Linked DNA regions of Homo sapiens: region 2 is linked to region 1. The links come from fine-mapping of genetic effects on gene expression. Tissue or cell type: whole blood. Region 1 holds a variant in brackets; the other region holds the start of a gene. All regions are shown on one strand. Distances are between the middles of the regions.

The links. PIP is the estimated chance that this variant, and not a neighbour inherited with it, causes the effect.
Region 2: it holds the start of PSMA3-AS1, and the variant in region 1 is fine-mapped to the expression of PSMA3-AS1 in whole blood (INTERVAL, PIP 0.98).

What each region holds. Positions count from the first base shown.
Region 1 is chr14:58,263,021-58,269,664 of GRCh38, forward strand. It overlaps PSMA3 (proteasome 20S subunit alpha 3), which reads left to right. Exons shown (of 11, transcript NM_002788.4): 7 at 685-750; 8 at 4,454-4,500. It overlaps PSMA3-AS1 (PSMA3 antisense RNA 1), which reads right to left. Exons shown (of 4, transcript NR_029435.1): 4 at 2,345-4,373. Among named protein-coding and RNA genes, the nearest start is that of PSMA3, 22 kb to the left of the region's middle. The variant A/G (reference allele first, on the strand shown) is at 3,663.
Region 2 is chr14:58,294,312-58,300,955 of GRCh38, forward strand. It overlaps PSMA3-AS1 (PSMA3 antisense RNA 1), which reads right to left and starts at 3,826. Exons shown (of 4, transcript NR_029435.1): 1 at 3,644-3,826. It overlaps ARID4A (AT-rich interaction domain 4A), which reads left to right and starts at 4,244. Exons shown (of 24, transcript NM_002892.4): 1 at 4,244-4,389; 2 at 5,487-5,549. The coding sequence starts at 5,544. RefSeq lists enhancers at 3,474-4,197, 3,494-3,913, 3,934-3,983, 4,094-4,183 and a silencer at 4,814-5,333.

The DNA.
Region 1 (6,644 bases):
TGCCCAGGCTGGAGTGCAGTGGCGCGGTCTCAGCTCACTGCAACCTCTGCCTCCCAGATTCAAGCGATTCTCCTGCCTCAGCCTCTGGAGTAGCTGGCATTACAGGCACCTGCCACCACACCTAGCTAATTTTTTTGTATTTTTAGTAGAGACAGGGTTTTACAATGTTGGCCAGGCCGGTCTCCAACTCCTGACCTGAGGTGATCTGCCCACCTTGGCCTTCCATAGTGCTGGGATTACAGGCATGACCCACCACACCCAGCTGTGCATCCTTATCTTTAAAAAAATTTACAAAATAATAAAATTGGGGGTTTAGAGTACTGAACTCATAGGAATTAACTTTATTTCTGTCTCTCAGGAATATATAATTTCATTTTTCATTGTCATAGTGCTAAAATCTTTTCCGTTCCTGTTCCCCAAAATGTCTTAAAGTGTATATGATTACATAATTTACATATTTTTGGATATACCTTTATTAAAAATACAGGTTGTTTTGGAATTGTTTGGTATTTTAGTATTTTTGAGCCCTTTGGCATTCATCAGAATGTGTTTGACTATATTTTTCTATACTTGCTTTTAAAAGTCATTTAGCATCCTTTCACTAGGTTATAGAAACATTAGTAGTCATTAATTACATATGATAGTGTACTAATTCAGTGATTATATATATTTTTTTCTAAATAGGGTTATTGGGGCTGTGCCATCGGCAAAGCCAGGCAAGCTGCAAAGACGGAAATAGAGAAGCTTCAGGTAATAATTAATGCTTGAATTTTTACTATGTCGTCATCCTAATGCAGTGAAATTTTATCACCACAGACATTTCAGTCTAAGGCAGGGATGTCCAATCATTTGGCTTCCCTGGGCCACACATAAAATACACCAACACTAATGATAGCTGATGAGCTTAAAAAAAAATCTCATCATGTGTTAAGAAAGTTTACGAATTTGTGTTTGGCCCCATGTGGCCTGTGGCTGGGGAAGCTCGGTGTAAGGATATAGTGTGGTTTGATGTTGAGAGTTTATGAAGCTGCTAAGTCACTGAATGGGAAAGCTGGTAACATATTATCTGTAGAGTTGTGTTATACATCCCTTTATAGATTCTGAATAACTGCTATAAAGCCTCAATCTAGAAAAACACAACTTTTGATATGATTTCACAAAATCCTTGAAACCTATTTATGAATCTCTGTGAGCTCTAGTTTGAAAATTTTGTTTAAAATTTTGAGTTAATAAAAAGTTATATTTTTCCTATATTCTTTCTTTGGAACACAGCTTTTATGTCTGGCTGTGCTCCACCGGTTCTCTTAGCTTTGCTCCTAGCCAGGTAAGGCATAAAGCCTACACTCTTACGACTACCCACTTTTTCTTTCACAAAATTCAGCTATTAGTGTGAAAAAGTTTTCTTAAAAACTTGGTTTTCCTTTTAGCCATGCGTTGATCAACTTAAAGACTTCATGGATACTGTTTCAATATTATTGATTACCTGTCAGAAACTTGCCTAAAAAGCAGGCATACCATTTATCAGTGTTTTGGTAAACTGAAGTGAGATACAATTTCACATACATTTAATGTTAATGCTGTACTAGAACCCTGCTCAACTAATTACTCATTCAACTTATTTAAGACCAGCTTCTAGAAAATACTTATTAGTGCTTGGCATTTATACAATGCTAAGTTCTAGAACCCCCTATAAAACCTAATTTGTTTCGTATTTTAGTAAAGCTGACAAAAGGATCTTAGAGGTCATTTAGCCCAAGCTCAACTGCAGATTAAACACACTGCATAGGACCACAGAATCAGCTGGTTCTGAACAGTATCCAGACCTTATGAGTCTTAGACCTATGTTCTTTTCCATTGCACACTTACTAGTATGATGCTAGGTTCCTATCTTCTACTCTTTTCCTTTTGTTTTCATCTCTCCATACTATTATATGGAAATTTGAAAATTAGAATATTTATGTCAGTTGAGGGGGATTACCCCTGTAATCCTACCAGTTTGGTAGGCCAAGTTGGGAGGACTGCTTGAGCCCAGTAGTTCCAAGACCAGGCTGGGCAAAAGAGTAAGACCCTATCTCCCAAAACAAAATGTTAGCGAGGTGAGGTGGTGCGTGCCTGTAGTCCCAGCTACTTGGGAGGCTGAGGCAGGAGGACTGTTTGAGCCCCAGCCAGGAGTTGGGGGCTACAGTGAGCTATGATCACGCCACTGCACTCCAGCCAGGGCAACAGAGCGACACCTTATCTCAAAAAAATAAAGGAAATTAGAATATTTAGAGCAGTTACTATCTGTCTTTCTGTAGTTAAATCCTAGCAAGGAATGGGAAAAACAATAAATCCCAGAGAAAAATCAAGAAAAAAAAATCACTTTAATTGAGGAACACTTTCAGTTTGTGACAAAATTATGCTGTGAATCAGGTGTTGCAAATTATGGCCCACTGCCTGCTTTTGTGTAAGTTTTATTGGAACACAGCTACATTCAGTCCATGGCTGCTTTTAGAATACAACAGTAGACTTTAACATTTGGAACAGGGAACAGAAACCAGAGCCATACAGCTAATAAACTTGAAAATATTTACAAGTTGATGCTTTACAAAATCCATCTGCTGACCCCTGCTCTGTACCATTGTTCTCTTCTGATGGTCTGTTTACTAAAAAATAAAAACTTCACAAACATGTAAAAAATAGATTTGCCATTTAAAATGTGCTTTTCAAGTTTGACTTTTTAGGATGCAATTAATTCACTAAATACAGAACTTAACTAAGGACAAAAATTTAAAGATCAGCATTCTTTCCCTTCCCATCACGCTCAACTTAACATGAAGAACTGTAAACATCCTAAGCTTACAACAAACCTATCTAGTTAGACTTCAGTTAACCACTTACACATCCCCCTCCCCCATGAACTATTTGGAAAAAGCTGCAGGCGTAATATTGGATCCCTAAATACTTTATTCTCCTTATACCATTATCAGACCCAAGTATCATCTAATAGTCCATAATCAAACTGCCTAAGCAGTTTCTACACTGTCTTTTTAACTATTTCAAACTATCAAGGTTCGCATTTTCTTCCTTAGAACTTTTAGTCTTTTTCTTCCCCAAAATATTTGAGTCCATGCCAGTTGCCTTTAGTTGTACCCAAATAATGGTTTGTCTATTTCCTAAAAGTAGTACTCTTAAATTTAAATTTAGTGTTATTTTTGTTGTCATTGTTCCTTCTTCCTCATGTGGTTGTGCAGGCAGAGCTTGAGCATCCAGATTTCAAAATTAAAAAATAAAAGATAATCTAGTTTAATATATAGTAGTTGAATCACCTTAAGTCTAGACTGCTGTATGAGCACCCATTATCTTTCACTATATTCCATCATCCCCCAACATATCCACAGTAGATGAAGGGCAGTTTGCTCAAACATTGTTTTGATCCTGTCATGTCTGTTCAGAAATGCCTGTCTATTCAGAAACCCACGTCTAATAACAAAATCTTGGACTGGTTACTATCAAAACCCAACAACATACAGACTCCTCAGCTAGGCCCTAGGGATATTTTTCTACCTTGATTTCCAAATGTTCATTGAAAGAATGCTTAATTCTAATTTGGAAAAAAGTTTTTGGCTTCCCACTTCTGCTTTACACGTTCATCTTTCTTGAAATCAAATCCAATCCAATCT[A/G]TATTCTAAGAACCTGCTCAAATCTTGGTTCTTCAAAGCTTTCCCTGGTATTTTGCATTTTTGCTTTGAATAGTTCCACGAAGGATAACTTCTTACTCCTTCCTTCATCTTTCTGTATCTTGCATATAGTAAATATTAATGACTTGTTTGCATTTTGTTATCCTAACTTGGCTATAAAGAAAATCAGATGTCTTCACCAGTCGTTCAAACTTCAGGTCTGCCTACAGATTCATAGATGGCTGTGGATTTTTATAATTTTGTCACAAAGTTAGTGGTAACTACAGGTTATCTCAGAATATCTTTTTTGGCGTATAAATTTTTTTCTTTTCCTTTTTTAGACAGTCTCTCTCTCTGTCGCCCAGGCTAGAGTGCAGTGGCGTGATCCCGGCTCACTACAACCTCTGCCTCCTGGGTTCAAGAGATTCTTAGGCCTCAGCCTCCCGAGTAGCTAGGGTTACAGGCGCGCACCACCTCCATGCCCAGCTCTTTTGTATTTTTAAGTAGAGACAGGGTTTCACCATGTTGGTCAGGCTGGTCTCGAACTTCTGACTTCAGGCAATCCGGCCGCCTCGGCCTCCCAAAGTGCTGGGATTACAGGCACAAGCCACTGCACCCAGCCTGGAGTATAAATTTCAAAACATTAAAATATGAATCAGGAAACTTCGATTCTGGTCTTTTTCAGACTTTAGGTTATTTTCCTTGGTTTTATATCTGAGTATAAAAGTGAAAATAGTTATTACACAAGTGGAAAATGTTCTTCTGATGAACAGTATACATTTTATTTTCTATAGATGAAAGAAATGACCTGCCGTGATATCGTTAAAGAAGTTGCAAAAATGTAAGTTGAAATTTTTCTTACCATCCACAAAAATATTTCATTTGACCTTTGCATATATATATTACATTAATCCTAAGAAGCTGTTTTCCTGTAAAATAACTTAGTGTATAATTTTTAGAAGGTAAATTTAACATTCTAAGAAGCCTCACGAAGGAAGAAAATGTTTTTAAGCAATATTTTTTAGTAGTAATGAATAGGATGGGAAAAATAGCTTGACAAAATAAACTCCTGTTACAGGTTAAGGACATATACCATTAGGGTCTTAATTTGTTAGCTCCCAACTTCTCAAATCTCTTAAGTCCTAATAATAGTAATCTTAAGATTGCCTCTATTGTAAGAATGCTTACAAACTTTATAGGTTACAACTAATTATTTCAATACATGATCCATGAAGCTGGCTCATTTATATAATCTGCTATTTATTTGGGAAAGATATGTTTCACTTTTTCAGGTTTATTATAAAAGTTCCTATAACAAGGTAAGAAGAGCAGTATTACAAAACATTTCAACAACCAGCTTAAGAAACCCTGAATAGTTTATTACAGGTATATAAAGTAGAATACTATTAATATGTAACAGGTATTTGGACAGTAAACAATAAAAAAGTCAATTAACCTGGGTAGTGATGTTTCTAAAATTTTGTGATTCTCTAGATCAAAGAGTGTAGACATTTGGTATTACAAAAAGATTCCAACAAAATACGTTGTGTAGCCAGCTTTTTAGATTCAAAAGTTATGGATAATCGTAATTCATAACAACTCTAAGTATTCCACATTAGAACTACATAAACAAGGTCTAGTCAATCACCTGTCTGTATGGTAGTGTATCAGGTTTTACATCTAACAATACGTGGAAGAAAAAAATTCCAATGGGCTCTATTGTTTAATAAACATACTATTTACATCACACTCAGAGTCTCTTATTAACCGGTCCATCATTACTGCTACTGCCTTTACCCCTCTTGCCACCTCCTCCCCTCCGCCCTCCTAGTTTCAGTTGTGAAGCAAGCAGAAGCCATTCTATGATTGTCAGTTAATAATGGCAACACTAGGAACCAACATGCAGCAGAGCTGCTAAGAAAGGAAGTCAGATATCTTCCTTGAATTGTATAGTATGTTATCATGATATACTCTGTTTCCTTCACCGAACCAATCCTTTGAAGTCCTTCTGGAAATCAGTTCTTACCATCTTTTATATTTAGGTATAATGGTAGTCATCTGTTAAGTGTTCCATGTTAGGAAAGCCATCCCTTCATCATTTAAGAAAATGGAGCAGCATGTTATCTTTTACTTAGTTGTAGAAAATCAAGATCCTCTCATATTATAGCAAGGTTTTAGAAGACCCTCCAAAAAGTAAGGTATGTAACTCAGTGCATAGTATTAGATAAAGCTATACTCTGCTACTGTACTTAATTTGATACTTTTTTTTTTTTGAGATGGAGTCTCACTCTGTCGTCCAGACTGGAGGGCAGTGGCACGATCTTGGCTCACTGCAACCTCCGCCTCCCGTGTTCAAGCAATTCTCCTGCATCAGCCTCTCAAGTAGCTGGGATTACAGGCGCCCACCACCACACCTGGCTAATTTTTGTATTTTTAGTAGAGACAGGCTTTACCATCTTGGCCAGGCTGGTCTTGAACTCCTGACCTTGTGATCCACCCACCTTGGCCTCCCAAAGTGCTGGGATTACAGATGTGAACCACCGCACCTGGCCTCTTGATACTTTTTATGTTACTTTAATATGTTGCATGACAGTGCCTCCTTCTTTGCTGTAATTTGTAAGGTACTACAATGTGAAGGCCAGGTTATGTGGCATATATGCCATTATAAAATGGACAAGGAGCTTAAAAAGACTACTGCCAAGAAGCTATAGGTTGAAGAGACCACTAATAATTGCAAGCACATAAATTAGTTTTTTTTTTTTTATTTTTTTGAAACAGAGTCTCACTCTGTTGCCCAGGCTGGAGTGCAGTGTCGTGATCTCAGCTCACTGCAGCCCCTACCTCCTGGGTTCAAGCAAGTCTCCTGCCTCAGTTTCCCGAGTAGTTGGGACTACAGGCCTATGGCCACCTCACCTGGCTAATTTTTGTATTTTTAGTAGAGACGTGGGTTCACCATGTTGGCCAGGATGGTCTCGAACTCCTGAC
Region 2 (6,644 bases), 31 kb after region 1:
TTGGAAAGCATTTTCTGCATCCTGCTAGTTGTGGAAGTGTTTTCCCTGCAAAAAGGTGTCGCAATGCTTGAAGAAGTCGTAGTCAATGGAGAGAGGTCAGGTGAATATGGCGGATGAGGCAAAATGTCACAGCCCAATTTGTTCAACTTTTGAAGCATTGGTTGTGCAACATGTGGAAGGGCATTGTGAAGAATTGGGCCTCTTTCTGTTGACCAATGCTGACTGCAAGCGTTGCAGTTTTTGGTGCATCTCATCGATTTGCTGACCATACTTCTCAGATGTAATGGTTTCGCCAGGATTCAGAATGCTATAGTGGATCAGACCAGCAGCAGACCACAAAACAGTGACCATGACCTTTTTTTGGTGCAAGTTTGGCTTTGGTAAGTGCTTTGGAGAATCTTCTCAGTCCATCTACTGAGCTGGCCATCACCAGTTGTTGTATAAAATCCACTTTTTCTCGCACATCACAATCTGACCAAGAAATGGTTTGTTGTTGCAAAAAATAAGGGATAAGGACACTTCAAAACAATGACTTTTTTTTTCGGTCAGTTCATGAGGCACCCACTTATCGAGCTTTTTCACTTTTTAATTTGCTTCAAATGCTGAAGGACTGTAGAATGGTCCACATTGAGTTCTTCGGCAACATCTCAAGTAGCCTTAAGAGGATCAGCTTTGCTGATTGCTCTTAACCGGTAGTTATCAACTTCTGGCGACCAGCCACTACGCTCCTGATTTTCAAGACTTTCCTTCCCTTTGCAAAATTTCTTGAAACTGCCAGGCACAGCGGCTCAAGCCTGTAATCCCAGCACTTTGGGAGGCCAAGGCGGGCGGATCACGAGGTCAGGAGTTCGAGACCAGCCTGGGCCAAGATGGTGAAACTCCATCTCTACTAAAAATACAAAAATTAGCTGAGCATGGTGGTGCGTGCCTGTAATCCCAGCTACTGGGGAGGCTGAGGCAGAATGGCTTGAACCCAGGAGGCAGAGGTTGCAGTGAGCCAAGATCATGCCACTGCACTCTAGCCTGAAAGAGCAAGATTCCATCTCAAACAACAACAACAAAAAAACTTCTTGAATCACCACTGCACTGTAAGTTAACAGTTCCTGAACCATATGCATTGCTGATATGGTGTCTCTGTTGTTTTACAACCCATTTTTAACTCAAAAACGAAAACTGCTCGAATTTGCTTTTTTGTCTAACATCATTTTCATTGTCTAAAATACACATGAAGGCTGGGCACGTGGCTCATGCCCGTAATCCCACCACTTTACGAGGCCGAGGCAGGCAGATCATGAGGTCAGGAGATCGAGACCACCATGGCTAACATGGTGAAGCCCCTTGGCTCTATTAAAAATACAAAAAATTAGCTGGTGTGGTGGCACGCGCCTGTAGTCCCAGCTACTCGGGAGGCTGAGGCAGAAGAATTGCTTGAACCTGGGAGGCAGAGGTTGTAGTGAGCCGAGATGGTGCCACTGACTTCAGCCTGGCGACAGAGCGTGACTCTGTCTCAAAAATAAAATAAAATAAACATGAAATAAACAGAGAGTAATAAGTCATTACCAAAAGAACAAAGCGAGAAATGCCCATTAAAATGATGTATAACATAACCACATTTATTTAACAACGTAGTCCAACATCAAATGGCAAATTCCAATAATGCAAAAACCACGATTACTTTTGCAACGACCTTCTTAGACACAATATTTTGCAAAACATGTACAAGGATATTCACTGACATATTACTGCCATTATAGAAAAATAAACACGTTACATAAATTATGATATATTTATCCCACAAAACACTATGAAGACATAAAAGATGCTTTACGATAAGATATTTCCAATATTCCCAATGTTTTCTATAAAGAATAGACGGTAATGAACAACACTAGAATATTTGGTAAAACAAAACCAACAAAAAAGACAAAGCCTTTTGTATAATATATAACTATAGTGTAAACCGTAACTACCTTTTGGAGGAGGGAAGACATTTTTGTATTCTTCTTTGGGCTTTTTAATAATTTCCAAATGTCCATGCATTATTTGGATTCAATAATAACAGTTTAAACTTTGATCGTAGAATTATGGATGCTTACCCCCTAGAAAATTCAGTAATATATTGTTTTATAAGGTCTTTTAAAAAACTGCTTCACTCCTACGAGATTGCGCCACTGCACTCCAGCCTCGATGACAGAGAGAGACTCTGTCTCCAAAAAAAAAAAAAAAAAAAAAAAAAAAGCCTCACTCCTAAACACTCCCATTTACAAGATCTTTTCTATATAAGAACTTTTTAAATAGGCGGGTGGGGGGGAGGAAATCACAAAAATACGCATAATGTTTTATAACAAAAACATGAGGTATATCAAAGTCCAGAAATGAGAACCACGTAAATGGGTAAACAAGTCCATAAGGATGTCCTAATTTTGGGATTTCATTCTAAAATATTACACTAGAAAGCTAATTATACAGACTCATTTGAATCTGACCAAACAAAACATCTTTTAACTACCCTTCCTCCCATTCTGGTATTTCTTTACTAATCCATAGAAAGTTTTTCCAGGTAGTCCCCCGCAATTCTAAGGATTTTTAGACTTTATGACTCACCTCAGTAATCACTGAGATGTTCTGTTTTCTTCAGCACAACTGCCAAAAAACCCAGTAATTGTTAAGTCACACAATCATTTTCTAGTTATGGGCGCCACCAATATAGCAGTAGGGTTTAAAACAGAGGTATTGAGGGTAACTATTAGGATCTATCCAGTGTGACTAGGTCACTCACTAGAAATGCCAACATGCATTTCACGTTTTTATGAATACTTTTGAGCAAAATTACTGTTACGAATAAAAAACTGATTCTGCTCGGCTGTTTTCTTACTGAGAAAATTTAGTCCACGTGGATTACTGACGATATGTCACATTTTAAAAATTACTCCATTCTATAAAACTAGTCAATTTTATACTCCAATTCCGCTATTTAAAAATGTGTGTTTCGTTTAACAGAATATAAGATGTTAACAGAAAAAGATCAACGTCTATCTTATCGGGGACGTCCTTTTGTCTAAGATGTTTTCAGTCCCTGCAAAACCACTGTTTGCTTTCAAAAAGTAGCATAAGCCTCGTGCAGAGTGACAGACCCTTGTCTAAGGTCACAGAAGAAGCGTCTGCGCTGGCAAGTAAATTCCTCAGCATCCAGAAAGCCAGCGCTTTCTCCAGTTTCCTCATAGCTTTATCCCGTGAGGAGCACGCGGAAACCTCTACCCATGCAGGATGTTTCTAAGAACCACTTCTTCCCTGTCTTAACTAAGAAGGCTCCCACAGCTGGTGCCAATCAGGTGGAGAACATGGCAAGTCCCCGAAATGCACTTCCAAAGACAGGAAAGATTGCAGTGGGACAGAACCCAGAAAATCTCTCACATTCTCGAAAACCCGAAAGAGAACCTCCAAGAAAGACGTTTGCCTCTCCTCCACCTCTTTATCTCGGCGGGAGAGGAAGCCTCGCCCCCATTCATCCCGCCCCTTCTCCCCACCCCGCCGCAGGGAGAAGTTTACCATGGCTGCCTGCGGCCCCTTCACTTCCGGTGCCGGTGCCGCTAGGGCTGCGCCATCCCCCCAGTCAATCGGACAACCATAGCCTCCAACTGACCTTTCTGACAGCTCTGAGACTCCTCCGGCCACGACTAGGTGCTGTCCTGGAGGAAACGGTGGAGGACGGCCGCACAAAAACCAATCTACCTGATGAAAACTCCGTTCCCTTCTCGCCAGAAACATAAAATGCGATGGAGCTACGGCCACCGCTGCCGAGACAAAATGGCGCCGACAAGCTGGTTTAGCGCAAGCGCCTTGGACAGACCCTGCCCCGCCCCCGTGCAAGCCCCTGGCTGCAATTCTGGGTTCCGTTTCCATGGGACACTCCGCCGCCAATCCTCGTGTCGAACTGCTCTTCCTGACCCCTCAATTCACCAATCAGTGCCCAGTCAAGCACATCCGGAGTCGTCTCTACCAATCATTTCTCAGGACTTGCTTACTCAATAACCAACTCTCCAATAAAGTTGGTTTTCGGAAAAAGCCAATCATAAGTGGAAGATGTCCTACCTGCTGTTTTTCTCACCAATCCATGAAGTTTCACAGCTACATCCAATGAGGACGGCAGGTAGCGAGGTCCTATCCGAAGCTCTTCGGCGTCATGAGCAGCCAATAGGAGTTCGTGTAGAAGCGAGTCTGCTCAACAGCTTGTTATTTGGTGGATTGTGGCAGTAAATCGGGGCGAGTGGGGAACCCGGCGCAGGAACTGCAGCCGCGGCTGGGAGTGGTGCTGCCCGGACGGGGGCCCACGGAGGTCAGAGGGGAGGAGGACTCTGGAGCTGACAGCGCGCACTTCACCCGCAGTTGGTAGGTGGGGAGAGGGGAATCCGGGGATACTGAATGGACGAAGTGGCAGTAGCAGCAGCTGCTGCTGCCCGAGGTCCCGGTGCAGTTGGAAGCTTTGGAGGTGGGGAGAGGGATGCTAGGCAAGTGGCACGGCGAGCGCAAGGGAAGGGGCCAGCCATTGACCAGCGGCAGCAACTGCAGGAACCGCCGCCGCAGTTGCAGCCGCCTCCTCGTCCGCTTCCTCGGGTTCCCGGGAAAATGGCTGTGGGGCTGGCCGCGCCGCTAAGTTTGCTTCCGCGCGGTGAAGAGCGGGCTGCTTGGGGGAGCCGTCCCCCAACTCCGCGGCGCGTCCACCTCTGCGGAGTCCGTGGCAGGACTCGAGGGGCTACGAGCTGATACCTCTCTGGGCTGTACAAAAAGTTGAGGCGGGCGCTGGGAGGAGGCAGCGGCTGCTGCGGTGCGGCTCCCCTCCCCTCCCACACCCTGTCCGGGCCACCTCCCCTCCTCCTCCCCTCCGCCCCCCGCCCCCTCCCCCACGCGGGTCCCCCGGGGCTCTGGCGGCTCCCGGCTGAAGGCCGCGGCCCCTGCCCCTTTGGGTGAAGGAGCGCTTCTCCTTTCTGACATGGTGCAGAGCGAAGGAAGGAGAGCAATGGCGCCGTGACACTCCGCTGCCGCCACCGCGGGCCCGGGGCGGGCCGAGGGGGCCGAGCGGCGGAGGCGGGGCGCGGGCCGAAGTCGGGGTATCCGGGGGACCGCGGAGCGGAGGCTCGGCGGTCGTCTCCGCGGGGGACCTGGGGAAGCCCGAAGGGAGCTCTGGCCTTTTCCGGAGCTATCTGTCCTGGAGCTCCGAGTTGAGCATTCCGGGTCAAAGTGGCCAGCGAGGCGGGGGCGCGGTGGGCCGCTGGCGAGCTCCGGGGCGGAACGGGCTGCCCTTTGGCGCTCGTGGGGTTCTCGCTGCCCCCTCAGCTCCTGCGTCCTGGCTGCCCTCGTAAGGGGTCTTGTCCCTTGGCTGGTGAGGATTCTGCCCCTCCCCGCTGGCGTTTGTTTACTTTCTTTCCCTTGGTCGCTCCCCGCAGTTGACTGATTATGTCTGTGCCTGTCTTTCCCCCTCCCCATAGTTCTAGCGACTGCGAAGATAGCTCGCTGAGCTGGAACCCCACAGATCACCAACAAAAATGAAGGTAAGTGGAGTCAACTCTGCCCCGATCCTCGCGCCCTGAACACTGCCAATCCTAAGGCTAGTGCCGTGGAATGTCATTTGTTTTGCTACTCAAAATTGATGTTCCTACTGATCAGCAGTTTCGGCATAGGAGGATGTGTTGAATGGGTGAAAAATGATCTGTGTGTCTAAATGCGGAGTTTAGGCCCTCTCTGTAGCAGTACTTTGGAAAGGCTGGTGCAGCCTTTCAATTGTTGTCCATTCGGATAGTATTTTTAAACACTTCCTGTGTTGGCAGCAACCTTTGCAGAAGTAAAGCTTTTGTCCTGCTTTGGTTCTTTGGGGGATTTTTTGTAAATTTTTTTTCTTCCCGTGTGCCAATGCGATTTTCTAAAAGAAAGAATACGTGGATTAAGTAATGAAGGTATCATTTCTTCTGTGTGTAAAATGAACTTATGTGGCTAAAATATTTGAAGTTGAAGTATAATAATAGTTTTAGTTAAATCTTTCCAATAAGTATTTTAAAACATATACTAAAAAGATACATATTCTACTGAGGATGACTGCAAATATCAGTATGTGGATGGTTAAAGGGAAAGGATCTCATATAGCGTTCTTGAATGCTGTGGCCATTGAATGTTTCAGGTCAGATTTTTGTTTGCCAAAAGCATTCCTATTCAATTTGTATTTTTTGTAAATGCACTTACTTTAAAAGGTACCCAATTCCTGTCTTATTTACTGTTTCAGCATATTAAGCTCTGAAATATAGCATTTTCCCAAACTTTCTCGTGGTTTTCTATTTTCTCGAAGTAAATGACATATTTAACCTTCTTTAATATTACTTGGGAAAACTTATTAGAAAACAAAAAATCATTTTCTACTTCAAAACGTATCTCCAAAGTGTACACTGTTAACTTTGCACTTAACAATGTTAAGTTGAACTTGTATGGATACACTTTAACTTCCGGAAAAAAAAAAAAAAGGTAAAATGACAGATTGAGATAGCAATCATCCTGTTACTGTAAAAATTAAAATGAGTGGTAGAGTGACATTTCTTACATCTTTCTATGTATCATTCTGGTCGTGTCCATTTGCTGAAAGTAGATGTTTCTTAGTA